Linked DNA regions of Homo sapiens: regions 1, 2 and 4 are each linked to region 3. Evidence: fine-mapped expression QTL. A gene starts in region 3. Each other region holds a variant in brackets. All regions are shown on one strand. Distances are from middle to middle.

Region 1 (7,457 bases), 67 kb after region 3:
CAGCAGGCAGCTGAAAATACAAGGTAAATTTCTACATGTAAATTTTAGACTACTGGATCCTATAAAATGTATGTGGCCTCATAAAATAACTGTATGCCACCGCCTCGAATTATTTCTTGTATCTCACCTTAATTGTGCTTAACATTTGTTTAACAAAAACTGATCCACAGAGAATCGGTGATCAGAAAGGCTGGATCTCTGCCCTGAAAAAGCCATTCTAAAAGCTAGTCTAGACCAAGTTTCATTTTATTTTCTTAAAGCACTGTGTTTCTATTGTCACCTTAGAATGACACAGAATTGGCTGGGCATGCTGGCTTCCTTAGAATGATATAGAATTGGCTGGGGGCAGTGGCTCACACCCGTAATCCCAGCACTTTGGGTGGCCGAGGCAGGCGGATCATGAAGTCAAGAGATCGACCATCCTGGCCAACACTGTGCAACCCCGTCTCTACTAAAAATACAAAAATTAGCTGGGCATGGTGGCATGTGCCTGTAGTCCCAGCTACTCAGGAGGCTGAGGCAGGAGAATTGCTTAAACCCAGGAGGCGGAGGTTGCAGTGAGCTGAGATCACGCCACTACACTCCAGCCTGGCAACAGAGCGAGACTCCATCTACCAAAAAAAAAAAAAAAAAAAAAAGAATGATATAGAAGAATTAAATGAGGATTAACTGGAGATTGACAATTTCAAAACCACCTTTGCAAAATTATAACAGTGACAAAATGATGACAGTGAAAGAGATCTGACCTAACCAACTCCATCTTGTTTTTAACCTCCAATCTGCCCTTGGTCATTCCTGGGCATGGGCCAAGATATTAATAAATTTGGGAGAAATTTAGTTTATGATTTAAATGATAATAGCTCATCCCAAAACTAAACTGCCTTTGTAAAACTAATGAAAGGACACCAGGTCAGGAGGATGCGAAGGACCAGAATTCTGCTAAGATGCAGGTCAGTTAAATGATTAGCAGTTATTATTCCAGAGGGCACAAAAATTTGCAACATCCTCAATTACTCCTGTAAATAACATCACTATTGTAGTACACAGGACTGGCCTTTTGAGATGTCTTTTCAGGCTTTTGCACTTCTGACTACCCAATGGCCCCTCTCAGACCAGCCACTCCTCTGTGGCCCCAACCCAGAAGCAGACTCAGCACGCAAGGACCAGGACTGTTTTTCTATATCCCTGTGATTCCATCCCCAACCAATCAGCAGTACCCATTCCCTAGCCCCTGCCTACCAAACTATCCTTGAAAAACCCTAGCCTCCAACTTTTCAAGAAGGCTGATTTGAGTAATAATAAAACTCCTGTCTCCCATTTAGCTGTCTCCATGTATATGAAATTATTTCTCTCTTGCAATTCCCATCTTGATAAATTGGCTCTATCTGGGTAGCAGGCAAGAAGAACCTGTTGGGTGGTTCTTACCTGTAATTCTTCCTGTCCAGCAAAAACCATTTATTCTTCTTGTCCAGTTTTAGGAAAGCATGCCTGTTGAGATTGGATCACCTTTCTTCTTGGAGACAGTCAAGGCAGTGCCTATTATGTTGGCCTCCCAGGCAAGAGGGTTTGCCAACTGGGGTGATTTCCATGAGCAGAGCTTTAGAATGATTCATTCCAACCTGACTTAGAACAATTTGCTTTATTTCTTCTTTTTTAAATTAATAATAGAGGCAGGGTCTTGCTATGTTGCCCAGGTTGGTCTTGAAGTCCTGGACTCAAGCAGTCCTCCCACCTTGGCCTCCCAAAGTGCTAGGATTACAGGCATGAGCCACCACACCCAGCCAGAATAATTTACTTTAAAGAGTTCTTCTTCCTTTTCTACATCTTAGCCCCATTAAATTACCTCGGTAAACCTTACGTCAAAACTTGGGGTTATGGTTTTCATCTTTCATTTCCAGGAACTAAGATGCCATCCCTCCCATCAGAAGGAACAGAGTTAAAGGAGTATAAACCAAAAATAAAATTCTAAGGCCCCCCAACCATCTGAATGGACTTCCTCCTCAGTCAGCGCCCTTAAAATTTAACCTGAGAGACTGTTTCAGGGCATGATGGGAAGTGGGGGTCAAACATGCCTCGTTATACCTCTCTGGCATTAACATCAACACAGACTTTAAGTCTAATAAGAAACATTTTGCAACCTATTCTCTCTGAAGCCTGCTAGCTAAAAGCTTCATCTGCATGATAAAACCTTGGTCGCTACAGCCTCTTATCTTAACCCAGACATTCCTTTCTGTTTGATCCCAGGTCTTTAGACAAACTCAGCCAAGTGTCAACCAGAAAACATTTGAATTTACCTGTAGCCTGGAAGCCCCACTTCAAATTGTCCCACCTTTCTGGATCAAACCAATGTATTTCTCAAATGTATTTGATTGATGTCTCATGCCTCCCTAAAATGTATGAAACCAAGCTGCACCCAAACCACCTTTGGTACATGTTCTCAGGATCTCTTGAAGGCTGTGTCACAGGCCATGGCCACTCATATTTGGCTCAGAATAAATCTCTTCAAATATTTTACAGAGTTCAACTCTTCGTCAACAGAAGAAACATTAGGAGATGGGGATGGGGCTGGAGTTGGGGGTGACTGACATTGTGTTCTAGTGGCTAGTTAACCAGCTAATCAGCCAAGGAGAGAAGTGGTGACTCAAGATAATAGGTGTTTTCTCTGAAGCAGTGGGACCATGGAGAGGAAGAAGAAAGAAGGGAAAGGACTTTTTTACAAATCCATAGCTGCAGACAGGAGACCATCTAAGATCTAGAGGTGGCCAAAGAGAGAAGTGACACGAAGAAAGGAAAAAAAGGAGATTCCCTCAGGAACCAGAAAAAGAAGGCAAAGGTTTGGTCCCGGAAGTACAAGAAAGTTCAGTCCTGGGCTCAGGAACGGGGTCACACCATTCCTATCCAAGAGCTGTTAGGAATGAGACAGAGTAGGAATGGGGGCTTGGGTCAGCTCACTCCCACTATGGCACTCTTTTCATGCATTCCCACTGATCACAAAACCCACACCACTACCTCACTGACACCATAATGTCCAAACCATGCCTTTTACTCAAAAGAATTCCAGTAACTAGGAGATAACCAAAGTTGTGAAGTGAGTGTCCTATCTGGGGAAGGAATGCTGAACAACTGATTTACAGCCTTGTTGCCTCTAGCCAGACCAGGTGGCCCGCTGCTCAAGATAACCATAGCAACCAGACAATGCTGACCTGCATACCCTACCTGATCTGCTTTGCCCAGCCCAGCCTGCATACCCCACCCTAATATCAATTCCTGATTTTTTTT[T/A]AAAAAGCCCTACCAGCTCTTTTCAGAGTCAGGTGCTCTCTCTCCCTTTTGCATTGAGAACCCAAGAACCTATGTTCGATAACAGTAACATATTATTTAAGAATCCAGGTTAAATGAGATAAAGAATACAAAGGGCTCTGCAGTGCTTAGACACTCAATAAATGTCAATTCCCTTCTCTCTCCCCTCGGCTATCAAAAATATTCAGTTATTTAGCTGCCTCTGTTTAAGGAGAGTGTGAAATGCAAAAAGCAGTAAAGGTATGTATGATGTAATCCCATTTAAAAAAATACACAGATACCCACAGAAATATGTAGAAAGATTCATATAAAATGTTCTGTTTACATTGTTGGGTGATGTTGTCATGGGAAGAGATCAACTTGTTTAGCCATATTTTTTCCTTTTCTACAATAAATATAGGCTAGGATTACAGGCATATGATTCTTAAAAGGTTGAGAAGTATATAGTATTATAGGAAGGTTTCCAATAAAAAATGTTCGGTTGAAAAAAATTTGCACTTGAAGAAATATTTCAGTATCTGGATAACTCACTTATATAAATACCTTAATCTGTAAGAACACCAGCTAAATCATTGTTTACTATACTTGCAAATAACGTTGTAATTAATAGAGTTAGAAGGTAATAGGTTCAAGGAACATCCAGCTAAGATTCCAGTTAACTTGTATAATACTAAATAGGTATTTTTCAGTAGATTTCAGTTTCAGGTATAAATAGCTTTTTATTTTTATTTTTTTTAAATAGACAAAATAGACCTTAAGAAAAAAAAATAGACCTCTAAAAAAAAAGATGGGATGGGCCAGCATGGTGGCTCACGCCTGTAATCCCAGCACTTTGGGAGGCCGAGGCAGGTAGATCACCTGAGATCAGGAGTACGAGACCAGCCTGGCCAACATGGTGAAACCCGGTCTCTACTAAAAATACAAAAACTAGCTGGGCGTGGTGGCGCACACCTATAATCCCAGCTACTTAGGAGGGCTGAGGCAGGAGAATCACTTGAACCTGGGAGGCAGAGGTCGCAGTGAGCTGAGATCGTGCCATTGCACTCCGGCCTGGGCAACAGAGTGAGACTCCATCTCAAAAAAAAAACAAAAAGATGGGGTGTGGGGTGGTCTCACTATGTTGCCCAGGCTGGTCTCAAACTGCTGAGCTTAAGAGATTCTCCCTTCCTCACCCTCTCAGAGTAGCTGGGACTACAGGCGAATTGCCCTACCATTGCCAGGTTGTAAACGGCTTTTTTTTTTTTCTTTTTCTTTTTTTTTTTTTGAGATAGGCTCTTGCTCTGCCACCCAGGCTGGAATGCAGTGGCATGATCACAGCTCACTGCAGCCTCAAGCTCCTGAGCTCAAGCGATCCTTCCACCTCAGCCTCCTGAGTAGCGGGGACTACAGGTGCGCACCACCATGCCCGGCTAAGTTTTTTTTGGAGAGACACGATCTCACCAAGTTGCCCAGACTGGTTCTCAAACTCCTGGCCTCAAGTGATCCTCCTGATTTGATGGCCTCCCAAAGTGACAGGATTATAGGTGTGAGTCACCACACCTGGCCAACATTTTTTTTTTGAGACAGGGTCTTTGCTCTATCACCCAGGCTGGAGTGCAGTGACCCTACCATGAATAGCTTTTCTTAAGGTCTATTTTGTCTATACGTCCCTTCATAGCCATTTTCAGAGTTTTGGCACAAGGAAAAAATAATCAAGTGAAATTCCTTTTTTGTTTGTTTGTTTGAGACAGAGCCTTGCTCTGTCACCCAGGCTGGAGTGCAGTGGCGCGATCTGGGCTCACTACAACCTCCACCTCCTGGGTTCAAGTGATTCTCCTGCCTCAGCCTCCTGAGTAGCTAGGATTACCGGCGCGCGCCACCACGCCTGGCTAATTTTTGTATTTTGAGTAGAGACAGGGTTTCACCATGTTGGTCAGGCTGGTCTCGAACTCCTGACCTCATGATCCACCACCCACCTTGGCCTCCCAAAGTGTTGGGATTACAGGCATGAGCCACCATGCCTGGCCTCAAGTGAAATTCTTTAGGTTTTCCATAATCTATTTTTCGGTTTAGCCTTGAGCAAAATTTTAAAACTTTATAACAAAGTGTATACCTGATAACATAATCCAATAGAATACTTACTACTAATATCTATAATAAAAATCAGAAAGAAAAAGCCCACAGTTTAACAACTTTGTGTTTACATACCCACTTAAATCTAAACTTGGGATTTTATTGGGCTCAAAATGTTTTATAATAGTGATAAGATCAATTACAATAAAATAATATATAAAATTTAAAATATAATTCTCTATTTTTAAAACATAAAATTCTGGTCCTATTTTTAAAACTACTTTTTTTTCTGGGGGTGGGGAGGACAGGGTCTAACTCTGTTACCCAGGCTGGAGTGCAGTGACACAATCACGGCTCACTGCTGCCTCGATCTCCTGGGCTCAAGTAATCCTCCTGCTTCAGCCTCCTGAGAAGCTAGGACTACAGGCATGCATCACCATGTCCAGCTATTTTTTAAAAAATTTCTTTTAGAGATGGGATCTTGCTATGTTGCCCTGGCTGGTCTCAAATTCCTGGACTCAAGTGATCCTCCCGCCTCAGCCTCCCAAAGTGTTGGGATTACAGGTATGAGCCACCCTGCCTTGCCAAAAATTATATTTCATTTTTAAACTCTGCAGGACATTTGATTAGACACTACTTACCCTATAATAAAACCGGGGAATGGTCTTATAGAATTCATTTGTGTTTTTTCTACCTCCTTTCCATTCGGAGTAATATTTTGTAAATAAATCCATTTCTTCATCTTTTAATTCTTGTTCACTTTTTTTTTCTGGTAACAAAACAGATTAAGGGGAGCACTTTTAAAATCAAGCAGTACTTTTACTCAGGTCATCCTATATATTATATTAATAGTTTAATTAAAATAGTTGCAGTGCCAAAAAGGCCTTCACAATTGTGCTTAGACACTGAGCATATTAACTTTTCTGAAATACCAAGAATCACTACCCTCTACTGAAGCAGCCTCCTCTACATCTTCAACCATTTCTCATGCTCCCTCTACTTCTGTTTATCGCTAAAGCTAGTCTCTTCCTCAAATTACCTCTCCTACAGAACTCTGTAGAGTGCTCCTAATTCATTCAATGAAAAGAATTTACTGAGCACCTACTATGTACAGAGAACGCTGTAGTAGACACGGAATGAGGGGTGAGCAAGACAGCCCCAGCCCCTGACCTCATGGAGTTTCAGCCTCATAATCACTGTTTCTCTACCTAATGTAGAGAAAACAAACAAAAAAACTCATCCTCTGTCTGAAGCTCAAAACTCAGGGCTCTATTACCCTGCAACTCGCCTGCTATTGGCACGTGGCTGTCTCATTCAGCCAATTCCTCCCCACTTATTTGTGGACTATGGTGACTGGTACACAGTGTTCTTCACAAGGTCCTGCAATCATTTAGGATGAATAAACATTTATGTGGGTGACCATGGGTCCTGCAACTCCAAAGACTTTCACCTCTAGTTCATTCTGCCATTTGGTTCTATGACAAGATCACAGATTTTACTTGATCCCTTTCTGAAATCTTAAGCTCAAATATACTCTCAGATCATCCTTTCTGGTAATTCAAAACCTCACTGCCATACCATTTCCACTTCAGCCTCACTGAGCTCTTGAATTCTGTGATCTATTTTCTCAAAAGTTATTTTACTCTTTCTGGTCTCATTTCCTTCCCAACAAGCCTGTAATTGTTTCCTTGAATTCCTTTTATGACTGCATTTCTGCTGCATCTGTTAATTTTTTTTTTTTTGGAGATGGAGCTTCACTCTTGTTGCCCAGGCTGGGGCGCAATGGTACGATCTCGGGTCACGGCAACCTCCGCCTCCCAGGTTCAAGGGATTCTCCTGCCTCAGCCTCCTGAGTGGCTGGGATTACGGGCATGTGCCACCACGCCTGGCTAATTTTGTATTTTTAGTAGAGATGGGGCTTCTCCATGTTGGTCAGGCTGGTCTTGAACTCCTGACCTCAGGTGATCTGCCCACCTCGGCCTCCCAAAGTGCTGGGATTACAGGCATGAGCCACCATGCCTGGCCTATTATGTTAATTTTTAACCTTAGACCAAACCTATAAGTTAATTTCTTTACTATGGCTCAGTGCTGTTGTAGAAAACTGCAAA
Region 2 (7,457 bases), 59 kb after region 3:
GCTTTAACCATTTCAAATATCAAATTTCTGGTAGATCTGAGATACTTTCAAGTTTATAGGACAACTGGCATCTCAAACTTGAAGTATCCAAAATGGGGCTCTCTTGTCATCTCCAACCTTGGTCCTCACCTGCTTTTCCTCTATTCCAACAGTTACTCAAAATAAAAATTTAAGACTTGTCTTTGGCTTCTCTTTTTCTTCATCAATGCCTTCACACTCCTTACCCTGAACATCCAATCTAGCAGCAATTTGTGTTTTTTCTGGGAAGGAGGGGAGTCCAAAATATATATTGAATTAATCTATTTCTTGCTTTCTCTACAGCCACCAATTACCCTAGTTATGGGCCCATCATCTCACCTGGACTATCATGGTAGGTGCCTAAATATTTTGCTTATACTCCAGATTTATTTATCTATTTAGAGATGGAGCCTTGCTCTGTCGCCCAAGCTGGAGTGCAGTGGCTCAATCTTGGCTCACTGCAACCTCCATCCCCTGGGTTCAAGTGATTCTCCTGCCTCAGCCTCCAAGTAGCTGGGATTACAGGTGCCTACCCCCATACCCAGCTAATTTTTGTATTTTTAGTGGAGACGGGGTTTCGTCATGTTGGCCAGGCTGGTCTTGAACTCCCGAGCTCAAGCGATCCACCTGCCTCGGCCTCCCAAAGTTGCTGGGATTACGGGCATGAGCCACCGTGCCTGGCCGTACTTTGAGTTCCTTACATCCTCCATACAGCATCCAGAATGATCTTTTAAAATGTAAATCATATCCTGACAGACTCAGCTTAAAACTTCCGATGGTTTCCCGTTAGCCTCAAAATAAATCCAAAGTCCTTACTGTGGCCCAAAAGGCCCTACATGTGGCCCCTGCCTACTTCTCCAACTTCATTTTCTGTTACTATAGTCCTTGTTCTAGCCACACTGGCTTCCTTCTGTTCCTAGAACAGGTCCAGGCTTAATTTTGCCTTGGAGACACTGTATTTGCCGTTTCCTCTATACTACATCTTCATAAGGCTGGCTTCTTTCTCGTACTTCATGGCTAAAACTTAATCACTATCTCAAAAAGATGCTCCTTCCAGCCTACCTAAAATCGTCTGTCAATCCCAGTCATATTCCTGCCTAGTTTACTGTTTTATTTTCTACATATAACTTGTCACTATTTGATATTATCTGCTTATAATTTAGTGTCTGTCTTCCCACTCTGCTAGAAAAAATAGGTCTACAAGGGAATGAAAATTGTACTGTGTCCCTGGAAAGGTTTTAAAGTATAACATTTAGAATGAGCTAACAGATTCCATCTACAGAAATCTGGGCAAGAAAACAAAAAAAAGAAAAAAAAGAAATCTGGGCAAACAGATTGTCACAAAGTAAAACATGAGCCCTACAAGCTTAGAATAATACCTGCCCCCAAATAAATGTCTACTAAATGCTTAATAAGATTTAATAAGTGAATAAAACTTTGTATACTCTACTCAGATTATAAATGTTGGTCTGGAAGCCACTGCCTTTCAAATTAGTAAGACACAAAGTCTGGGTTTCAAAAGGCAATGGGCCAAGGATGGAAGAAATACTTTGAGAAAAGTGTTTTCTTTCATTGAGAGAAGGGGAAAATTATTCCTTTTTAAAAACAACTATAGAAGTACACTGTTTCTTTTCTCTCCCTTTTGCTCATCTCTCTTTCAATCTTTGTTTCCATCCATGGAAAGAGGCAAGACAAGCAGTAACAGGGGACTGTTTTTATAAATCAATATTGCTGTTTTTATAAATCAAGTGAACTGCTAACAAGAATTCTCAGAGCTAGAGAAGTACTCCAGTTTTGGACCTGACCTCTAAACGAGTACCAGCAGGTGGCTAATTATGTCTTCCTTGCCAGAAGCAAGAGCCTTTTATTCTCAAGTTGGTCTGAACCTTAAAGAGAACTGTAGTGTGCCCCTGGAAAGGTTTTACAGTATAAATGTTCAGAATGAGCTAACAGATTCTATCTACAGAAATCTAGACAAAACAGAATGCAACAAATTATAGCAGGAACCATACGAACTATAACAAGAAATTTACATTTCTTTAACCCTTATATCTGAATAATTATTTGATTAATTAACCTAGTTTATATTCATGCCCAACTCCCTTCCCCTCTCCCCTACAATCTTAAAAAAAGCACTGTATATTTGGGAAAAAAGCCTGAGGTGAAAAGTAAGTCCATATAATTTAGATACCCATACTCAGAAGAAGCATAGCCATTTGGACCATGAAGTTATAATTCTCTGTTGATAACTTGGCCTAATTACAGCAGTGCCTAATAGGAAACAAGCAGCCTCTTGGTAACTGACCTAGCAATCTTAAACCCAGAGGTGGGAATACAGTCACATTCATTTTCTCTCTCATATTTTCTTTTTTCTTTTGAGACAGTCTTGCTCTGTTGCCCAGGCTGGAGTGCAGTGGCATGATCTCAGCTTACTGCAACTGCCTCTTGGGTTCAAGCGATTCTCCTGCCTCAGCCACTCTAGTAGCTGGGATTACAGGCATCTGCTACCATGCTCAGCTAATGTTTTTGTATTTTTAATAGAGACAGGGTTTCACCATGTTGATCAGGCTGGTCTCGAAGTCCTGACATCAAGTGATCCACTCGCCTTCACCTCCCAAAGTGCTGGGATTACAGGCGTGAGCTACCGTGTCTGGCTTCTCTTATATTTTCTTAAAAAAAAAAAAGCGGGGGGGTGGAATTCTTGGCCCTTTAAAAAATAGTGACACATTAATATCACTCATGAATAATCAAACGTTTTTCAGTGATTTTTAAATGTTAAAATGCTACATTCTTTTTATTTTCCCCTTTAAAAGGCTTTTTTTTTTGAGACAGTCCGCTCTTGTCACCCAGGCTGGAGTGCAATGGCACAATCTAGGCTCACTGCAACCTCCACCTCCTGGGTTCAAGCGATTCTCTTGTCTCAGCCTCCTGAGTAGCTGGGATTACAGGTGGCCACCACCATGCCTGGCTAATTTTTGTATTTTTAGTAGAGACGGGGTTTCTCCATGTTGGTCAGGCTGGTCTTGAACTCCTGACCTCAAGATCTGCCCACCTCGGCCTCCCAAAATGCTGGGATTATAGGCATGAGCCACCGCGCCCAGCCAAAAGGCCTTTTTTTTTTAAAGTTTGAAGAAAAAGAATCTAAAAAGGAATTTGTATAGTCAATATACATTAAACATTTGTTTAGTAACACATGTCATTTGTTAAAAAAAATAAAAATAAAAAACCAAACCCCAAAACGGAAACATCCTGTGTCTCAACAAAAACTATATGGAATCAACACCACCGAGGTCTATGGAAAAAAAAAGAAAAACCTGTTCCCTTTGCTCTGCTGGAAGCTGGAAGGTGCTAGGCCCTTGTGTAGTCGTGCATAGAATTCTAGCTGCTTTCCTCTATTGAGCGCAGAGTATACTATGTCTCTATGTGAATATGGACAGTTAGCATTTACCAACATCTCCTTGTCTACTGTGTCTTTTTTTTTTTGAGATGGAGTCTCGCTCTTTCGCCCAGGTTGGAGTGCAGTGGCGTGATCTCGGCTCACTGCAAGCTCCGCCTCCTGGGTTCATGCCATTCTCCTGCCTCAGCCTCCCAAGTAGCTGGAACTACAGGTGCCTGCCACCACGCCCGGCTAATTTTTTTTTGTATTTTTAGTAGAGATGGGGTTTCACCGTGTTAGCCAGAATGGTCTCGATCTCCTGACCTCGTGATCCGCCCGCCTCGGCCTCCCAAAGTGCTGGGATTACAGGCGTGAGCCACCACGCCCGGCATCCTTGTCTACTGTCTCTTATTTAAAAAAAGAAAATAAATTTTACAAAATGGGGTTATAGGTCAGCAAAGGGTAGGTTTGAAACGTTTTGATAGTTTAAAGTGAGCATTTTGACAACGTTGCTTTTCCTTTGGCATGTTTAATTGTGATTTTTAAGGGGCATCCTTGCAGTTTAAAATGACACCTTTAAAATAAATTCTCTCTCTCTTTTTTTTTGAGACAGGGTCTCCCTCTGTTGCCCAGGCTGGAGTGCAGTGGTGCAATCTCGGCTCACTGCAACCTCTGCCTCCCAGATTCAAGCGATTCTCCCACCTCAGCCCCTTGAATAGCTGGGATTACAGGTATGCACCACCACAGCCCAGCAAATTTTTCTATTTTTAGTAGAGATGGAATTTCACCATATTGGTCAGGCTGGTCTCAAACTCCTGACCTCAGGTGACCCGCCCACGTCAGCCTCCCAAAGTGCTGGGAGTACAGGCCTTGGGAATACAGGCGTGAGCCACTGCACCCAGCCAATAC[AT/A]TTTTTTTTTTTTTTTTTTTTGAGACGGAGTTTCACTCTTGTTGCCCAGGCTGGAGTGCAATGGCGCTATCTCGGTTCACAGCAACCTCTGCCTCCTGGGTTCAAGTGATTCTCCTGCCTCAGCCTTCCAAGTAGCTGGGATTACAGGTATGTGCCACCAAGCCTGGCTAATTTTGTATTTTTAGTAGAGATAGGGTTTCTCCATGTTGGTCAGGCTGGTCTCAAACTCCCGACCTCAGGTGATCCGCCTGCCTCATCCTTCCAAAGTGCTGGGATTACAGGTGTGAGCTACCACACCCAGCATAAATTCTCTCTTAATGATGACTTGAAGGCTGCTACTCCATGGGAGAATCAGTAGAACCTGTAGGATCTTATTTGGAATTGACATTCTCTATTGTAATTTTGTTTATTTTAAATTTGTTTTTTGTTTCACTGGAAAGATGATGTTCAATTTTAAAAGTTGAAAGTGTACAAGTTGCTTTGTTACAGTAAAACTAAATATGTACACACAAACACACACAGACAGAAATAAAACAAAGTATTATGAGAACAGCCTGTAATCCCAACACCCAGTGATAACTACAGTTTACATTTTAGTGTCTATAAGAGTTAATATAATATCTATAAGGTTAACACTTACAGATTCCCGAAGGTACCCCTGCCCAGCGACATCATATAAACTGAGTCCTATTCTTGTTTGATGAAGCCAAACTGACAATAAACAAGAAAATGAAAGTAATTCTTAAGATCTATCCTTCAGATATGAAAAAGGAGATAAAGAGCCAGATTTGAGACAAGCTAATCTAGTAACTCTAAAAACATTTCTTCTCACCACAAAATTGCTTGAAACAAAAAACCATAGAATGGAAGAGTTCAACAATTCTACCATGACTAAAGCTATAATAAAATTGACACCTTGAAGATACTGTTCTTTACCAATTAAACTTGGTGTTCCACCAAACAGGGACAGCTAGTATAATATTATGCCTTCAGTGAAGCTGCTTTTATTTCTGAGGTTAATTACAGCAACCAATTATTAAAGATTGTATACAATAGGCTTTCACAGATTATTATGGCACTTGTAGGAATCATAAGTCCAAGCTGTTTAATTGATGCTCCTTGAAACTGATATTACAGCTTTGGGTTTGAAACTATCAGTCAACTCAACTTGTAATATACTGGTAAAATAAAATTATCAGTAAATTAAAATTATTTCAAATTACCATACATTAAAACTCTTGGTTCAGCTCTTAATATTTCTAGTCTACTATTATCTTTAAGACACATGAGGGTTTAAAAAATTTTTGTTTTTTTATGCTAACCCAAGTTTATGTAACACATCTTGGTCAAAAGATAAGAAATTCTACTATTCAAACTTAGAGTGATTTCACATAGAAGAAATACTTATAAAAGCACAGACCAAAAACCTACTTGATTCCCAGATAAGGAGTTCAAGCACAGTAAAAATGAATCACCTTTTCTCATGACATAATTAAAGAACTGCATGATGGAAATTCTTCCATATGAATCTGTATGAAGGAGTTTAGCAAAGACTTTTGCTGTGAAAAATTGCCTAAGAAAAGAAAATAAAGATTTAAATGATCTGCCAACATAAAAGAAAATGACTTCTACATAAATTAGCAAACAATGGCATAAATTCATACAATTAAAAATGAAAGAACAATAGAGACTCCTTATAATTCAAAAACTTAAAATATTAAGTCAAACTTTTTTTTTTTTTTAAAAGAAATGGAGATTTGGCCAGGCGCAGTGGCTCTTGCCTGTAATCCCAGCACTTTGGGAGGCTGAGGCAGGCACATCATGAGTCAAGAGATCGAGACCATTTTGGCCAACATGGTGAAACCCCGTCTCTAGTAAAAATACAAAAAGTATTTGTATTGGGTATTTATATTGTATTATATTGTATTTATATTGGCCCAGCCAATATTTGAGGCATTTAAAATGCTTAACATATTCTTTTGTTAATACAATAATACTTGGGAGGCTGAGGCAGGAGAATCACTTGAACCCAGGAGGCGGAGGTTATAGTGAGCTGAGATTGCGCCACTCCCCTGCAGCCTAGCGACAGAGCAAGACTCCATCTCAAAAAAAAAGATAAATATATATATATAAACAGAGATTTGCTCTGTTGCCCTGACTGATCTCGAACTCCTGGCCTCAAGTGATCCACCTGCCTTGGCCTCCCAAAGCACTGGAATTACAAACGTGAGGCACCATGCCTAGCCTAAGTCATAAATGTTTGCATTCTTTTTTTTTTTAATTAAAAGTTTTTTTTATTTTGCAGAGATGGGCACGTGAGCCACAGTGCCTGGCCTTGCATTCTTTTTTGTTTGCTTTCGTCTGTCTTAAGGCTGAAAGTGTCATAAACTATATTATTTCTTTTTTTTTTTTGAGATGGAGTCTTGCTCTTTTGCCAAGCTGGAGTGCAGTGGCACGATCTCGGCTCACTGCAACCTCCGCCTCCAGGGTTCAAGCGATTCTCCTGCCTCAGCCTCCTGAGTAGCTGGGATTACAGGCACACGCCACCACGCCCAGCTAATTTTTGTATTTTTAGTAGAGACGGGGTTTCACCATGTTGGTCAGGATGGTCTTGTTCTCTTGACCTCGTGATCCGCTCACCTCAGCCTCCCAAAGTGCTGGGATTACAGGCATGAGCCACCACACCTGGCTATATTATTTATTTTAATAACTTCATACCAATGTGATTTTTTGACTGTAAATAATTTTATTAAATTTAATTAGTAACTTAAATGGACTCAAATGTCATTCCATTTACTTCATTTAATATTTGAGGATTTGTTTATTTTTTTTAAAGGTAAGGTCTTGCTCTATCGCCCAGGCTGGAGTGCAGTGGCTTAATCACAGCTCATCCTCCCGGGCTCAAGCAATTCTCCCACCTCAGCCTCCGGAGTAGCTACAGGTGTACGCCCCCACACCCAGATAATTTTTTTAGTAGAGACAAGATCTCCCTAAGTTGCCCAGGCTGGCCTCAAACACCCCAGCTCAAGCAATCCTCTCACCTCAGCCTCCAAAACTGCTGGGATTACAGGTGTGAGCCACTGTGCCCAGCCAATATTTGAGGCATTTAAAATGCTTAACATAACACATTCTTTTGTTAATTATATTATTCTT
Region 3 (7,457 bases):
TACCTGGCATATTGTGCTCCATAAGTGAAACCACTACCATGATTTTAATAACTTATTCAGCCTGGGCAACATGGCAAAACCTCATCTCTACAAAAAATATAAAAATTAGCCAGGTGTGATGGTACACGCCAGCTACTCAGGAGGCTGAGGTGGGAGGATCGTCTGAGTCTGCAGTGAGCCATAATTGTGCCACTGCACTCCAGCCTGGGTGATACAGTAAGGCCCTGTCTCAAAAAAAAAAAAAAAATTTCTTTATGCTTAGACTGAACCTAAAATGCATTTTTATTTTTATCATCTTTTTTTCTTGTGCATTATTTTTGATGAAAATATATTGTCCTGTTTGATGGATAACTTAAAAAATTCTCTATCAAAGTATATATATGTAGCTATGTTAAAACCCTAAGAATGTCTTGTTTATTTGATGAACATTCCTGGTTATCAAATTTTATTCAGATTTATTTTCCCAGCCTTACGCAGAAATGGTTCAATCCAAATTTACCTTTTTAGCTCTATATGTATCATTAAATGATAAATTTAGACCACATTATGTTTTCAAGTAGATAAATTATCATAATACTTGAATTTATTTTTGTCATAGTGCTACGATACAATTTATGTTACAAAGTGAAAGAAGGAAAAATTTGGCACATTGCCTTGGTGCCTACTTTTGGTTGAGCTATAACAGTTTGGAAATAATGACAAAAATATAAATGTCCAAAATAAAACCATTAGAATTTCTATGCTTTTATGTTGCTTTGAGTTGTTGATTTGTTTTGTTTTTGTTTTTTTGAGACGGAGTCTCGCTCTGTCGCCCAGGCTGGAGTGCAGTGGCGCGGTCTCGGCTCACTGCAAGCTCCGCCTCCCGGGTTCACGCCATTCTCCTGCCCCAGCCTCCCGAGTAGCTGGGACTACAGGCGCCCGCCACCACGCCCGGCTAATTTTTTGTATTTTATAGTAGAGACGGGGTTTCACCGTGTTAGCCAGGATGGTCTCGATCTCCTGACCTCGTGATCCACCCGCCTCCGCCTCCCAAAGTGCTGGGATTACAGGCGTGAGCCACCGTGCCCAGCCCGAGTTGTTGATTTGTAATAAACTGCTCTTCAATTGGATATTTGTGTTAAAAATAACTTTTTAGGAAATACTTCCAGTTCACGTTAGAATGTAACTTGTACTTTGAATTTTCAGTAAACTAAGAAATACACATGTAAACTGTGAAAATATATTCTGCTTCGGCAATGAAAATTGTAATTTGAGGCCAGGCGTGGTGGCTCACGCCTGTAATCCCAGCACTTTGGGAGGCTGAGGTGGGTGGATCATCTGAGGTCGGAAGTTCGATACTAGCCTGGCCAACATGGTGAAACCCCGTCTCTACTAACAATACAAAAATTAGCCGGGCGTGGTAGTGCACAACTGTAATCCCAGCTACTTGGCAGGCTGAGGTGGGGGAATCGCTTGAACCCGGGAGGCGGATGTTGCAGTGCGCCAAGATTGCGCCATTGCACTCCAGCGTGGGTGAGACCCCATCTCAAAAAAAAAAAAAAAGAAAAAAAAGAAAAAGAAAATTGTAATTTGATATTTAATTGCCACTTTGGAAAATAAAATCATGCATTTATAAATATCCCACAAAGTTTTAGTAATAAAGATTGTTGATTGCCCTGCTTGCCAGTAAGAAGGAAGAGATTTTGAATACATATAATGCAGAACTGTGTTGTTTATGAATGCCAATTCATGAAGTCTTAACAATTGGTTCTTTATTTTTGTTTTCAATTTATGGCCGAGTTTGGTTTTGCTGTTTTGGACTGTCTCAACTCCCTGCTGATGCCACCATACAGAGTCAGATCAGGTACTAACTTGTTTACTTCAGCAGCAACCTAACTTGATTTTATTACCAGGATAGAGAGCAATATGGATTTCCAACTAGTTTTTAAGGCGTAGATGGTTTTCAAATGATTATTTGTTTTTTAAAGTTTTTGGTTTTGTTTTTAGGTTCCAGTTATACATAGAATAGGAAGTGTACAATAACATTAGGCAGAGGGTAAGGAGAAGAACTTTGGCACAGAAGAGAAAGGAATATTTAATATTTGGGCCTGCTGTTGCTATGATGAAAAACATTTACAAGGTCATACAACTTTAGGGAGCATTTCTGAATTGAGACTAGTATGAAAATGGAATTTAAAGTATCAAATGAAGCCTCCCATAGCCAAAATAATGTATGTTTTGGTTTTGCCCCCTACATATTTGTGAAAACTTTCATGCTAAAACAACAATATACCATTTACCTGCAGAACCTCAGACTTGTTTGATGTTGAAGTCATGCAGTAATTGCATGATTTTTTACTTTCGTTGAACATTGCGAAAGACGGAAAAAATCTGGGACGCCCCCTCTAACATACGCACACGACTTTAAGACACAGATAAAACATTCCTTACATTTGTCAAGATGGAAGCTTACTACTGCCCTTTGCTCTCCTTCAGGTCTTTTCACTTAACACTTTCTACAGTTATACTTAAGTATTTCAGACAAGAGTAAGCAAATATCACGCCTGGGGTTCTTCTTTCGAGGGTATTTTGGCTGGACTGTCACCCACGTTTGGAATGGAAAGTGCAGCACGAGCCGTACATTTTACATTTTTCAGCAACCACATCCCATCACTAGCCTTTGAAGTACAACGACACAGCTGTCTTCATTTTACAAGTGCAAAAACCGAGGTCCTGCGGGGTGACTGCCCCAGACGCCGCTGGTGACGGGCTGCGCCGAGGTCGAGACGCCAGGCTTCAGGTACACGTACCAGAAATGACGTCACAGGCGGTGCCAGGCGGGGATCCACGAGCTCTGGATGCTTGCTTGGCCGGAAGCGACGCCCCGCAAGGACCCGCCCCGCCCCGCCCCGCCCCGCGCGAGCCGGTAGTTGCGCCTCCCAGACTGCAGTTGGCCAGCTCTCGGGGTGCGGAGCCCGGCGGGCTAGGCGAGGCGCGGGCTGGCCCCGCCCCTCAGGCCGGCGAGTCCCCTTCTCAGAGACTTGGCTAGGCGCGGCGCGAGGCGGGCGCTGGGCGGGTGAGTCCCACTTCCCGACAGCCTGGCTCGGCCAGCGACTGGGCGGGGAGACCAAGGATGGAAGTGGGCTTACCGGCCATTACCCTCTTTCTCACCAGCGCCAGCAGCCCTGTGGTGGCGACGACGATGGACCAGGAGCCAGTGGGCGGTGTGGAACGAGGAGAAGCCGTCGCAGCCTCGGGAGCTGCGGCCGCCGCGGCATTCGGGGAATCTGCAGGGCAGGTAGGTGGGGCCGCCGAGGCTGACGTCCGGGGAGCCGAGCCGCCTCCTTGCCTTCTCCGCGGGCCGCTCTTTTAGCCTGCGCGGCCGTCCTCCGAGCAGGCCGCCCCAGCTTTGGAGTTCCTCCTCACTGCACCCCTGTTTCTGCTCACTGAGACCAGCTTGTGGGAAGGAGCGCCCCCCGCCTCACTCACCAACCCCTTGGCTGGCAGCACAGCAGACTCTGGGGCGGCCTCGGGTTCCTGGGGTGATAGTCCAGCTTCTGGTCTACCAGAGGAAGAAGAAAGGCGTGTCCCCCAAAGGCTGTCCTTGCAGTAGCTGGAAGCCAGGTGAGGGCGGCTTCAACCACTTCTCAGTCTCTTCTGGTGCGAGCGCCTGCCTGGGCATCTGCCCTTTGCTTGGCATATGCCAAACGTTTACCAGCTTTAATTCACTGGATCCTTACAGTAACCGCTCGAGGTGGGTGTTAGCCCCATTTCACCGCCGAGGCAACTAAGGCTCCGAGCTGCGCTGTCCAACATAAATAGAATGCAAGCTGCATTGAAAATTGTAATTTAAAATTTTCCAGTAGGCACGTTTTAAAAAAGTGAAACCGATATTAATTTTAATAGCATATCTTATTTAACCTAATTTATCAAAACAATTTCAACCTAAAATTACTATGAAAGTTATTAATGAAGTATTTGCATTCTCTTTTGGAGTCTTTTCTAAGTCTTTTAAATCCTGGGTGCATTTTACACGCATAGCATATCGCAGTTCTGGCTGACCACATTTCAAGTGCGCATTAGCCACATGTGGCTAGTGGTTACTGTATTGGACAGCGCTGGTTTAGAGAGTTAACGTTTCTTGCAACTTTTCAGTATTAGACAAAAAGACACTTTGGGAGGCCAAGGCGGGTGGATCACCTGAGGTCAGGAGTTCAAGACCAGTCTGGCCAACATGGTGAAACCCCTTCTCTACTAAAAATACAAAAATTAGCTGGGCGTGGTGGCGCTCGCCTGTAGTCCCAGCTACTCGGGAGGCTGAGGCAGGAGAATTGCTTGAACCCTGGAGGTGGAGGTTGCAGTGAGCCGAGATCACGCCACTGCACTCCAGGCTGGAGACAGAGCGAGACTCCGTCTCAAAACAGCAACAACAACAACAACAACAACAACAACAAAAAAAAAACCCTTGAGTTGCTCATGTATGTAACTCTTCCCATCCTCCATGAGAATGAAGCTTTTTCAGTAGCTTCATTTTTGAGACTAAGTACCTGAATGTTAGTAAGACATTTCCCCCAAACTGTGAGTATATCTCTGTGTATCTCTTATAGTATAAGATGTCGTTTGCATTAACAAAAGCTTATCCAGCCTGGGCAACAGAGCAAGAACCCATCTCTTAAATAAAAAACTAAAGAAACCCCAAAAACAAAAAACACAACTTTCCCACATACCAAACTCTATATGGAATACGTTTTTTCCCTCCTACTTAAGAAGGGGATTCAGGGGACAACATGAATTGATAAGGAAGCCACGTCATTTTCAGTTGAGTTGAGACCTATTGTTGGCAAGTGCACTTACACTTAACCTTTGAGTCCATGGTGCTTGATATGTTTTTCAATTTGATTTTTCCTGTTGTTACTAGAATTGTTTTTTTAAAATCACTACCTCCGCCCTGGATCTAATAGCAAAGTAAACACACGTGTACTTATATACCAGCTAAATGTTGTTTGAAGTGAGAGGCTCTTTGATTGGGGTTAGTGATATTCTGTTGTTTTCACATTCTTGGTTAACAAATAAGTACTTAACCAGTAAAGAAGGCTGTAGAACAAAAGATAAAAATTCACAGGAATACCCCACCACCACCCTTTCTTCATGTTCTCATTCCCCAAAGGTAACTATTAAGTTTTGGTGTAGTCTCTCTGGAATTTTATCATTCAATATTATATATTTCTTATATATTATATATATTATTAAATATTAAATATCTCTTCTTTCTTGTTAAACACCAATGAGTTCCATTTTCTGATTTGCCCTTTGTGCTTTCAGATTCACATTCCTGAATCAGAAACATCTTTGGGAACTCCAGTTCTATGCCCAGGGGGTTGAGCACAGTAACAGGGAAGTGGACATCTCAGGAGATGGAGAGGCCTCTATCTTACACTTCTTCCCAAGTTTGGCAGAACTGAGAAATCCCTAGTGCAATGTAGGGAAAGGGAGTAAGAGATAGGAGATAGGGTCTAGAATTAGGCCTCCAAACAGGCCATCCAGTACCTGTTGTGACATTCTTTTTTTTTTTTTTTTTAAGACGGAGTCTCACTCTGTGGCCCAGGCTGGAGTGCAGTGGCATGATCTTGGCTCACTGCAACCTCCACCTCCCGGGTTCACGCAATTCTCTTGCCTCAGCCTCCTGAGTAGCTAGGACTACAGGCGCACGCAACCACATCTGGCTAATTTTTGTATTTTTAGTAGAGGTGGGGTTTCACCATCTTGGTCAGGCTGGTCTTGAAGTCCTGACCTTGTGATCCACCTGCTGCCTTGGCCTCCCAAAGTGCTGGGATTACAGGTGTGAGCCACCGCACCCGGCCTCCTGTTGTGACATTCTATCCAGCAGCTTCTCTGAATAGACTTTTAACCAGAATCTCAGCCTCAATGTTTTTAAAGGAGTTAAAATTTCAGTACCACTCAGTGATTGATTTATTTGGTACCTCTGTTACCAAGCACTTACTATGTGCCAGGAACTCTAGGCTGAAAGATATAGCAGTACCTACCCCCATGTTGCTAATAGCCTAGTTGGGGAAGATGACAAAGAATAAATTCTAAGTCTAGTATGTGTTTTAAAGAAGTCTGGGTGCCATGGGAGTATATACAAAAAATTGCCATTAAAACCAGATCCTGAGCTGGGCAGAGTGGCTCACACCTATAATCCCAGCACTTTGGAAGGCTGAGGCCAGTGGATCACTTGAGGTCAGGAGTTCGAGACCAGCCTGGCCAACGTGATGAAACCCTCATCTCTACTAAAAATAGAAAAATTAGCTGGGCATTATGGCTCACGCCTGTAGTCCCAGCTACTCGGGAGGCTGAGGCAGGAGAATCGCTGAAACCCAGGAGGTAGAGGTTGCAGTGAGCCAAGATCGCACCACTGCATTCCAGCCTGGATGACAGAGCAAGACTCCTTTTCAAAAAAGAAAAAAACAGATCCTGAGAATAAAGATAAGCACATTTATAGTTTGGTTAACTATAAAATGGAGTAAAATGTTAATTGACATGGTACCTCATAATTTCCTGGTGTTATGAAACTATCTTTCAGATCTTTGGGGTTCGTTATGGAATTTGCATAATTGGCAGTGAAATTTTTCTTACTTGCAGATTTATAAAATGAAGCATTTGGAAAATTCACAGTGTAACTTTTTTTGTTTTTTGAGACAGAATCTCACTCTGTTGCCCAGGCTGAAGTTCATGGCGCGATCTCGGCTCGCTGCAACCTCCACCTCCCGGGTTCAAGCAATTCTCCTGCCTCAGCCTCCTGTGTAGCTGGGATTATAGGCACGCTCCACCGCGCCTGGCTAATTTTTGTATTTTTTTAGTAGAGGTGGGATTTCACCATGTTAGCCAGGGTGGTCTCACACCCTTGACCTCAAGTTGTCTGCCCGCCTCAGTCTCCCAAAGTGCTGGGGTTACAAGCATGAGCCACCATGCCCAGCCACAGTGTAAATTTTATTTGTAATTATTGGATTTCTGGTTCAAGTTGATGTTTGAAAAATAAAAAAAGAAAAATATTTTAAAAATATAATTATTGGGAATTTTGTATCAAATGATTTTCTGGTTGGTTTTACCTGTTAGTGCTTCCTTCATTGCCCCCCACCCCGCCTCCCAAATAGAGGTTGGAATCATTATCCCTCATCTGAAATACTCTAAAATCTGAAGCTTTTTGAGCACTGACATTCCTTCCTTTGCCTGTGTCATAGAAGGAAAAAATTAAGCCAATGAGAGATTGCTAGAGGTAGCAGTGAGAAGCCTCTACTGTCTTGGGGGTGGGATAGGGTGGGGCATGGTGGTATACTGTGAAGGATCTGAGCTCTCTATTCACTGACTGGAGCTGTTGCATTGACATTAGATCCATCCAGTTAGTAGGATGACTGGAGATCTAACTTAGCTCATCTGTCTTTCCTTTGCATAGGAAATTAAGGGATCCAAAAAGCTGA
Region 4 (7,457 bases), 130 kb before region 3:
GCACTTATTTATGGGTATGCTTTGTATAATCTCTAAAGCAGGCATAATTCTTATGATGCCAGGTAATTGAGCAGAGTCACAGAAAAAGAGTATTTTAAAAGGAGGGAGTCCCAGCCTGGCCAACATGGTGAAACCCCGTCTCTATCAAAAATATAAAAATTAGCTGGGCATGGTGGTGCACACCTGTAATCCCACCTCCTCAGACGCAGAGGCAGGAGAATTGCTTGATGTCCACATGCAAAATAATAAAGTTGGACCCCTACCTCATACCATATGTAAAAATTTACTCAAAACAGATCAAAGACCTAAATGTAAGAGTTAAAATTGCAAGAGTATTAGAATAAAAAATAGGTATAAATCTTCATGCCTAAGTGAGGTGGCTCATGCCTATAATCCTAGCACTTCTGAGATGGGCAGATCACTTGAGCACAGGTGTTTGAGACCAACCTCAGGAACATGGCAAAACCTCGTCTCTATTAAAAATACAAAAAAATTAGCTGGTGTGGTGGCATGTACCTGTAGTCCCAGCTACTCCGGAGGTTGAGGTGGGAGGATCACCTAAGCCCGGGAAGTGGAGGCTGCCATGAGCTGAGATTGTACCACTGCACTCCAGCCTGGGAGACAGGAGTGAGAAATCAACTCAAAAACAAACAAAACAACAACAACAACAAAACCTTTGTAACTTTGGATTAGGCAATAGTTTCTAAAATATAATACCTAAAGCCTAAGCAACCATAGAAAAAATAGATAAATTGGACTTCAGAAAAATTAAAAGCTTTTAGGCCGGGCGTGATGGCTCATGCCTGTAATCCCAGCACTTTGGGAGGCAGAGGCAAGTGGATTAGCTGAGGTCAGGAGTGTGAGACCAGCCTGGCCAGTATGGTGAAACCCCACCTCTACTAAAAAAAAAACACACAAAAATTAGCTGGGTGTGGTGGTGTGTGCCTGTAGTCCCAGCTACTTGGGAGGCGGAGACAGGAGAATTGCTTGAACCCAGGAGGTGGAGGTTGCAGTGGACCAAGATTGTGCCACGGCACTCCAGCCTGGATGACAGAGTAAGACTCCATCTCAAAAAATAGAAATACAGGCTGGGCGTGGTGGCTCACGCCTGTAATCCCAGCACTTTGGGAGGCTGAGGCGGGCAGATCACGAGGTCAGGAGATCGAGACCATCCTGGCTAACAGGGTGAAACCCGTCTCTACTAAAAATACAAAAAAATTAGCCGGGCGTGGTGGCGGGCACCTCTAGTCCCAGCTACTCAGGAGGCTGAGGCAGGAGAATGACATGAACCCAGGAGGTGGAGCTTGCAGTGATCTGAGATCATGCCACTGCACTCCAGCCTGGGCAACAGAGCGAGACTCCATCTCAAAATAAATAAATAAATAAATAAAAATACAGGCTGGGCATGGTGGCTCACGCCTGTAATCCCAGCACTTTGGGAGGCCGAGGCAGGCAGATTACTTGAGGTCAGGAGTTCGAGACCAGCCTGACCAACGTGGAGAAACCCTGTCTCTACTAAAAATACAAAATCAGCCGGGCGTGGTGGCGCATGCCTGTAATCCTAGCTACTCAGGAGGCCGAGGCAAGAGAATCGCTTGAACCCAGGAGGCGGAGGTTGCAGTGGGCCGAGATCATGCCATTGCCCTCCAGCCCGGGTGACAGAGTGAGACTCCATCTCAAAAAATAAAAATACAAAAATTAGCTGGGTGTGGTGGTGCATGCCTGTAATCCCAGGTACTCGGGAGGTGGAAGCCGGAGAACCACTGGAACTGGGGAGGCAGAGGTTGCAGTGAGCAAAGACTGTGCCACTGCACTCCAGCCTGGGCAACAAGAGCGAAACTCCGTCTCAAAAAAAAAAGAAAAAAAAAAAAAACCCAAGTGAAAAGTAGGCAAAGGACTTGAATAGACATTTCTCTTAAGATGATATAAAAATGGCCAATAAGCACATAAAAAGATATTCAACATTATTAATCATTAGAAAAATCCAACTTCAAAACCACAATTGAATACTACTTCATACCTGCTAGATCAGCTGGGAAGAAAAACTCAGATAATAACAAGTGTTGGTAAAATTTGAGCTCTTGTATATTAACAGTGGAAGTGTAAAATGGTGCAGGTGCTTTGGAAAACAGTTTGGCACTTTCTCAAAATTTAACCCTTTTCCAGTTTAGATTTTAAAAAAACACAGCTCGATGCCAGCACTCATTTAATTTTACTTAAACATGTTCTTTGAGGCTGAAGAAAATCTGACTGATTTTCATGTGAAAATAAAATATAAAAACTGTTCTTGGAGTTATTTCTAAACAGAACTAACATCAGAATCATCTGAACCATCAAAATCGTCTATTTCAGAAAAATCAGATCCATCAAATGAATCTTCAGCCAACAACTGTTTGAGAACGATGCTACGTTTTTTAGGATTTGACATTTTCAGTGATCAAGAATTACTATATTTTATAAACGGAAATACAACTAAAAACAGAATACTATAAATAGAATAATGTTTTTGTTTCCAAAGTCAATACACTAGAGCAATGCAAAAATAATAATAAATATTAATATGCTTACTCATGTATTAATAATACAACAATATTTTGTGGCAAGGTTATCTTGGAGTAAATGCTGCAGCTGCAAGCACCGCTGGCAGGTATTCTTGGGGCAAAGGCGAAAAGGGTTAAACAGAGTTATCATATGACTTAGTAATTCCACAATTCCACCTAAGAGTATTGAGAACATATGTCCACACAAAAACTTGTACCTGAATGTTCATAGCAACTTTATTCGTTATAGTCAAAAAGTGGAAACAACCCAAATGTCCGTCAACTAATGAATGGATAAACAAAATAGCATAACCACTCTGAGGTATATCCGCACAACAGAATATTATTGCACAATAAAAAGGAATGAAGTGCTGATACGTACTACAACATGGATGATCCCTGAAAACATTATACTAAAAAAGAAATCCCATTCCAGTAGGTATAGCTAAAAATAAATAAATACACAAAACATTATCTTTAATGAAAGAAGCCAGTCACAAAAGGTCACATGGTGTATGATTCAGTTTATATTAAATGTCCAGAATAGGAAACTCTGTAGAGGTGGAAAATAGATTAGCAGTTGTCAAGGGCTGTAGGGAGGGGGAATTGGTAGTGACTGCTAATGGATACAGGAGTGATGAGAATGTTCTGAAATTAAATGGTAATA[G/T]TTGAATGAATTTATGAATATACTAAAAAACACTGCATTGTACACTTTAAAAGATACATTATACACTTTAAAAGGTGAGTCTTATAGGATTTTATGAGATTTTATGAAATTTGAATCATATCTCAATTTTTTTAAAAGTGTTTATTGGATTTCTGAGACTCGGGTGTTGTTAGTGGCCTTGTAGAGGAATGTTAGTGGTCAAAGGCAGCTGGCAGTGGACCAAAGAATGAGTGGGAAGTGAAGAATAGTGAGTGTATACAATTCTTTCAAGAAGGTTAGGTGAGAAGAACAGGGCAGTAGCTGAGAGAGATAAAAGGTCAAAGAATATTCTGGTTTTGTTTGTGGTGCTGATGGCAGAAACTTAAGTAGGTTAAAATGCTAATGGAGGCTGGGCGTGGTGGCTCACTCCTATAATCCTAGCACTTTGGGAGGCCAAGGTGGTCAGATTGCTTGAGCTCAGTAGTTCGAGATTAGCCTGGGCAACATGGTGAGACCCCTTCTCTACAAAATATACAAAAATTAGCTGGGCATGCTGGTGCCTGTTGTCCCAGCTACTTGAGGGGCTGAGGTGGGAGGATGGCTTGAGCTTGGGAGGTCGAGGATGCAGTGAGCTGTAATCACGCCACTGCCCTCCAGTGGACCTGTCTCAAAAAAAAAAAAAAAAGATAGTAAGATCCAACTAAGAGGAAGTATACTGAGGAGGAGGATGATAAATAATAGAATAGAATAATTAAGATAGCACAAGGTGGTTAAAATGGAATTAAGAACACAGGTAACTGTTAAATAGGAAGAAAGGTGCTGACTGGGGGAAGTGAAATTATATATATTGAATTAGTTTAATTTGAGGAAGTTAAGACGCGTTTTATCTGAGGACATCTGTTTTCAGGTCAGTTGATGAAAAGTAAGGAAGTGTAGGCGAAGGGTCAGAAATGTGGGAAGATTAGAAAATGTTGGATGTGCTGGCACGGTGTCTCATGCCTGTAATCCCAGCACTTTGGGAGGCTGAGGCAGGTGGATCACTTGAGCCCAGGAGTTTGAGATTTTATTAAAAAAAAAAATCTATCTATCTATCTATAGAAATTGACACTTCTGGTCTTAAAGCTTGAAACTTACATTTATTTTATCTGAGTTACTTCCTCAGGAAAGGACCCCCAGACCTCTGGGAAAGTATCAAATAATTGAAACTCACTGGATCATCTCATCCAATGAGAGGCCAGGCCCCTCATTCATCATGATTGCTTCCTTAACCTTCCCCGAGTTCTTGTTTTCCTACACATTGTTATATTTCTTACCTGCTATATAAACTCCTAATTTTAGTCGGCAGGGGAGATGGATTTGAGACTGAACTCCCATCTCCTCCACTGCAGCACCTGGTCAAAGCCTTTTGCCTTGGCAATACCCGTTGTCTCAGTCATTGGCTTTCTGTGTAGCGAGCAGCAGGACCTAGACTGAACCCACAAAACCACAAATTTATACTATTGGGACAATCGTAACTCAATCTCTAGTCCCTGATGATTTGGGACGTTTAGGGCATCTAATCTGATCAGTTGTTATCTAATGTATCATCGGGTCGTACTTAAATTCCAGAAAATGCCCAGGAAAGGATAATTCTAGTGAAACAAAAAACCCAGTTTGGTCCTGTTACTTCTTATGCTTATGCTAATTGGAATCCCCTGGTAGCACATACTATCTGAAACGTAGCAGAACTCCCAGGAGAATCTATAATACATTTACGGTTTTGGTGATAAGGAACCCCCACTCGCTTGAGTCCCTTAGATCTGTGCTAATCCTACTCTACGCCTCTGGAACAACCCAGGATTCCAAGGATAGACTGGTAGTTTCTCATTAGTTTAATGAAACTGTGGTTTGGACTACATGTGTCAGCTGCTTTCCACTAATATCTGAGTAGGGCTAAACCACAGGAAAATATTGTTTCAAGTATGAAAATAATATTTAAATAGGACAATAATAATTATTCTAGCCGGGCATGGTGGTGCGCACCTATTAGTTCCAGCTACTCAGGAGACTAAGGTGGGAGGATCACTCAGCTCAGGAGTTCAAGACTGCAGAGAGCTATGATCATTGTGTCACTGCCTTCCAGCCTGGGTGACACAGCAAAACCTGGTCTCTACTGTAAAAAAAAAAAAAAAAAAAAAAAAAGAATAATTAGTTTAATAGGATAGAATAAAAATAATTAAAATTTCTTGATTATTGTCCATCTTGTGTTAGGCTTACATTTATACATATCATATGTATATATATGTACATATGATATGTATGAATGTAAGATATGTATAAATGTAAGATATGCAGCACACCAACATGGCACATGTAGACATATGTAACAAACCTGCACGTTGTGCACATGTACCCTAAAACTTAAAGTATCATAATAATAATAAATAATAAAAAAGATATATAGATATATATCTCTCAATTTGTCTTTCTCCCTCTCCTTACCATGGTTTTTGTTTAAAACTATCTTTATTAACAACAATAATTATAAGTGCAGCATGCAATGCTTTCCAAAGCACTTACTCATCCATTATTTTACTGTATGTAAACTTCCATCTCAGCTAGGTTGGAGATGCATTATTACCTCCAGGTTGCTGATGAAGAAACAATGATTAAGCAGTGATTAGTGACTTGTCCAAGATCATATAATTTGTTGGCAGGTGAGTTGTTTTTAGACTTCAGATATCTTTTGTTACTTCTTAACGTATACTTTCTATTCACTATAAGGTTAGTGAGAATTTTGATAAAGGTTTCCTTTTTTTTATTAAAAAAATTTTTTTAGCCTGTATCCTGCTGAAGATAAAGGTTTCCTAGTAAAACTATTCTAAACTTGTTTTTTTTGTTTGCTAGAAAAATGGTTTCAATAGACTTCTTTTTTTTATGGAATCTCGCTCTGTCCCCCACGCGGAATGCAGTGGTGCAAGCTTGGCTCACTGCAACCTCCGCCTCCTGGGTTCAAGCGATTCTCCTGCCTCAGTCTCCTGAGTAGCTGGGATTACAAGCGTGTGCCACCACGCCTGGCTAATTTTTGTATTTTTAGTAGAGACTGGGTTTCACTATGTTGGTCAGGCTGGTCTTGAACTCCTGACCTCGTGATCTACCTGCTTTGGCTTCCCAAAGTGCTGAGATTACAGGCGTGAGCCACTGTGCCCAGCCTAGACTTCTTTTTTAAAAAATGTATGTTGAACATTCAACAAAGGAAAAATGACCATGATTCGTAAAATACTGATATTTAATACTTCTCAACTTTCCAAAACAATGATAGTGATGATATATTTTAATCACATAAGGGGCACTAATTTTAATATGTCTTTACCACTTTATTTTATTTATTTATTTTTGAGACAGGGTCTCATACTCTGTTGCCCAGGCTGGAGTGCAGTGTTTCGATCAGGTCTCACTGCAGCCTTGACCTCCCTGGGCTCAGGTGATTCTCCCACCTCAGCCTACCGAGTAGCTGGAACCACAGGCTCACACCACCACACTTGGCTAATTTTAAAATTTTTTGTAGAGACAGGGTTTTGTCATGTTTGCGCACCCTGATCTCAAACTTCTGAGCTCAAGCAGTCCTCCCTCCTCGGCCTCAAAAAGTGCTGGGATTACAGGTGTGAGCCATTGTGCCCAGCTATTTTATTTTTCAGATAGGGTCTCACTCTGTCACCCAGACTGGAGTGCAGTGTCGCCATCACAGCTCACTGCAGCCTCGACCTCCCCAGGCTCAGGTGATCCTCCCACTTCAGTCTTCCAAGTAGCTGTGCCACCACATCTGGCTAATTTTTTGTATTTTTTGTAGAGATGGGGTTTCGCCACGTGGTGGTCTCAAACTCCTGGCCTCATGTGATCTGCCTGCCTTGGCTTACCAAAATGTTGGGATTACAGGCGTGACCACTGTGTCCTGCCACCACCTTATTTAGTGCTAACTAAACAACTTTCCCTTTGCCAAATGTGATAATAATTTCTTAATTTCTTGTAGAATTACTGATCAGAGTCAACATTCTTTTTTTTTTTTTTTGAGACAGAGTTTCGCTCTTGTTGCCCAGGAGGGAGTGCAATGGCACGATCTCTGCTCACTGCGATTTCTGCCTCCCGGGTTCAAGCAATTCTCCTGCTTCAGCCTCCCAAGTAGCCGGGATTACAGGTGCCCGCCACCATGCCCAGCTAATTTTTGTATATTTAGTAGAGATGGGGTTTCGCCATGTTGGCCAGGCTGGTCTCAAACTCCTGACCTCAGGTGA

The links. PIP is the estimated chance that this variant, and not a neighbour inherited with it, causes the effect. A credible set is the group of variants that fine-mapping cannot tell apart.
Region 1: its variant is the best candidate, but not a certain one, in a credible set for the expression of FAM177A1 in whole blood (INTERVAL, PIP 0.57).
Region 2: its variant is the best candidate, but not a certain one, in a credible set for the expression of FAM177A1 in skin (TwinsUK, PIP 0.71).
Region 4: its variant is the best candidate, but not a certain one, in a credible set for the expression of FAM177A1 in cerebellar hemisphere (GTEx, PIP 0.74).

The regions. Positions count from the first base shown.
Region 1 is chr14:35,110,620-35,118,076 of GRCh38, forward strand. It overlaps PPP2R3C (protein phosphatase 2 regulatory subunit B''gamma), which reads right to left. Exons shown (of 13, transcript NM_017917.4): 2 at 5,991-6,118; 3 at 1-10. It overlaps LOC101927178 (a long non-coding RNA gene), which reads left to right. Exons shown (of 5, transcript NR_110415.1): 4 at 1-23; 5 at 2,245-2,511. Among named protein-coding and RNA genes, the nearest start is that of PRORP-PSMA6, 7.5 kb to the right of the region's middle. RefSeq lists an enhancer at 1,930-2,711. The variant T/A (reference allele first, on the strand shown) is at 3,280.
Region 2 is chr14:35,102,360-35,109,816 of GRCh38, forward strand. It overlaps PPP2R3C (protein phosphatase 2 regulatory subunit B''gamma), which reads right to left. Exons shown (of 13, transcript NM_017917.4): 5 at 5,780-5,877; 6 at 4,945-5,015. It overlaps LOC101927178 (a long non-coding RNA gene), which reads left to right. Exons shown (of 5, transcript NR_110415.1): 3 at 322-370. Among named protein-coding and RNA genes, the nearest start is that of PRORP-PSMA6, 16 kb to the right of the region's middle. RefSeq lists a silencer at 370-537. The variant AT/A (reference allele first, on the strand shown) is at 4,304.
Region 3 is chr14:35,043,352-35,050,808 of GRCh38, forward strand. FAM177A1 (family with sequence similarity 177 member A1) reads left to right here and starts at 2,921. Exons shown (of 5, transcript NM_173607.5): 1 at 2,921-3,277. The coding sequence starts at 3,113. RefSeq lists enhancers at 2,441-2,640, 3,361-3,630, 3,731-3,790 and a silencer at 2,761-3,110.
Region 4 is chr14:34,908,527-34,915,983 of GRCh38, forward strand. No RefSeq gene overlaps it. Among named protein-coding and RNA genes, the nearest start is that of BAZ1A, 37 kb to the left of the region's middle. The variant G/T (reference allele first, on the strand shown) is at 3,208.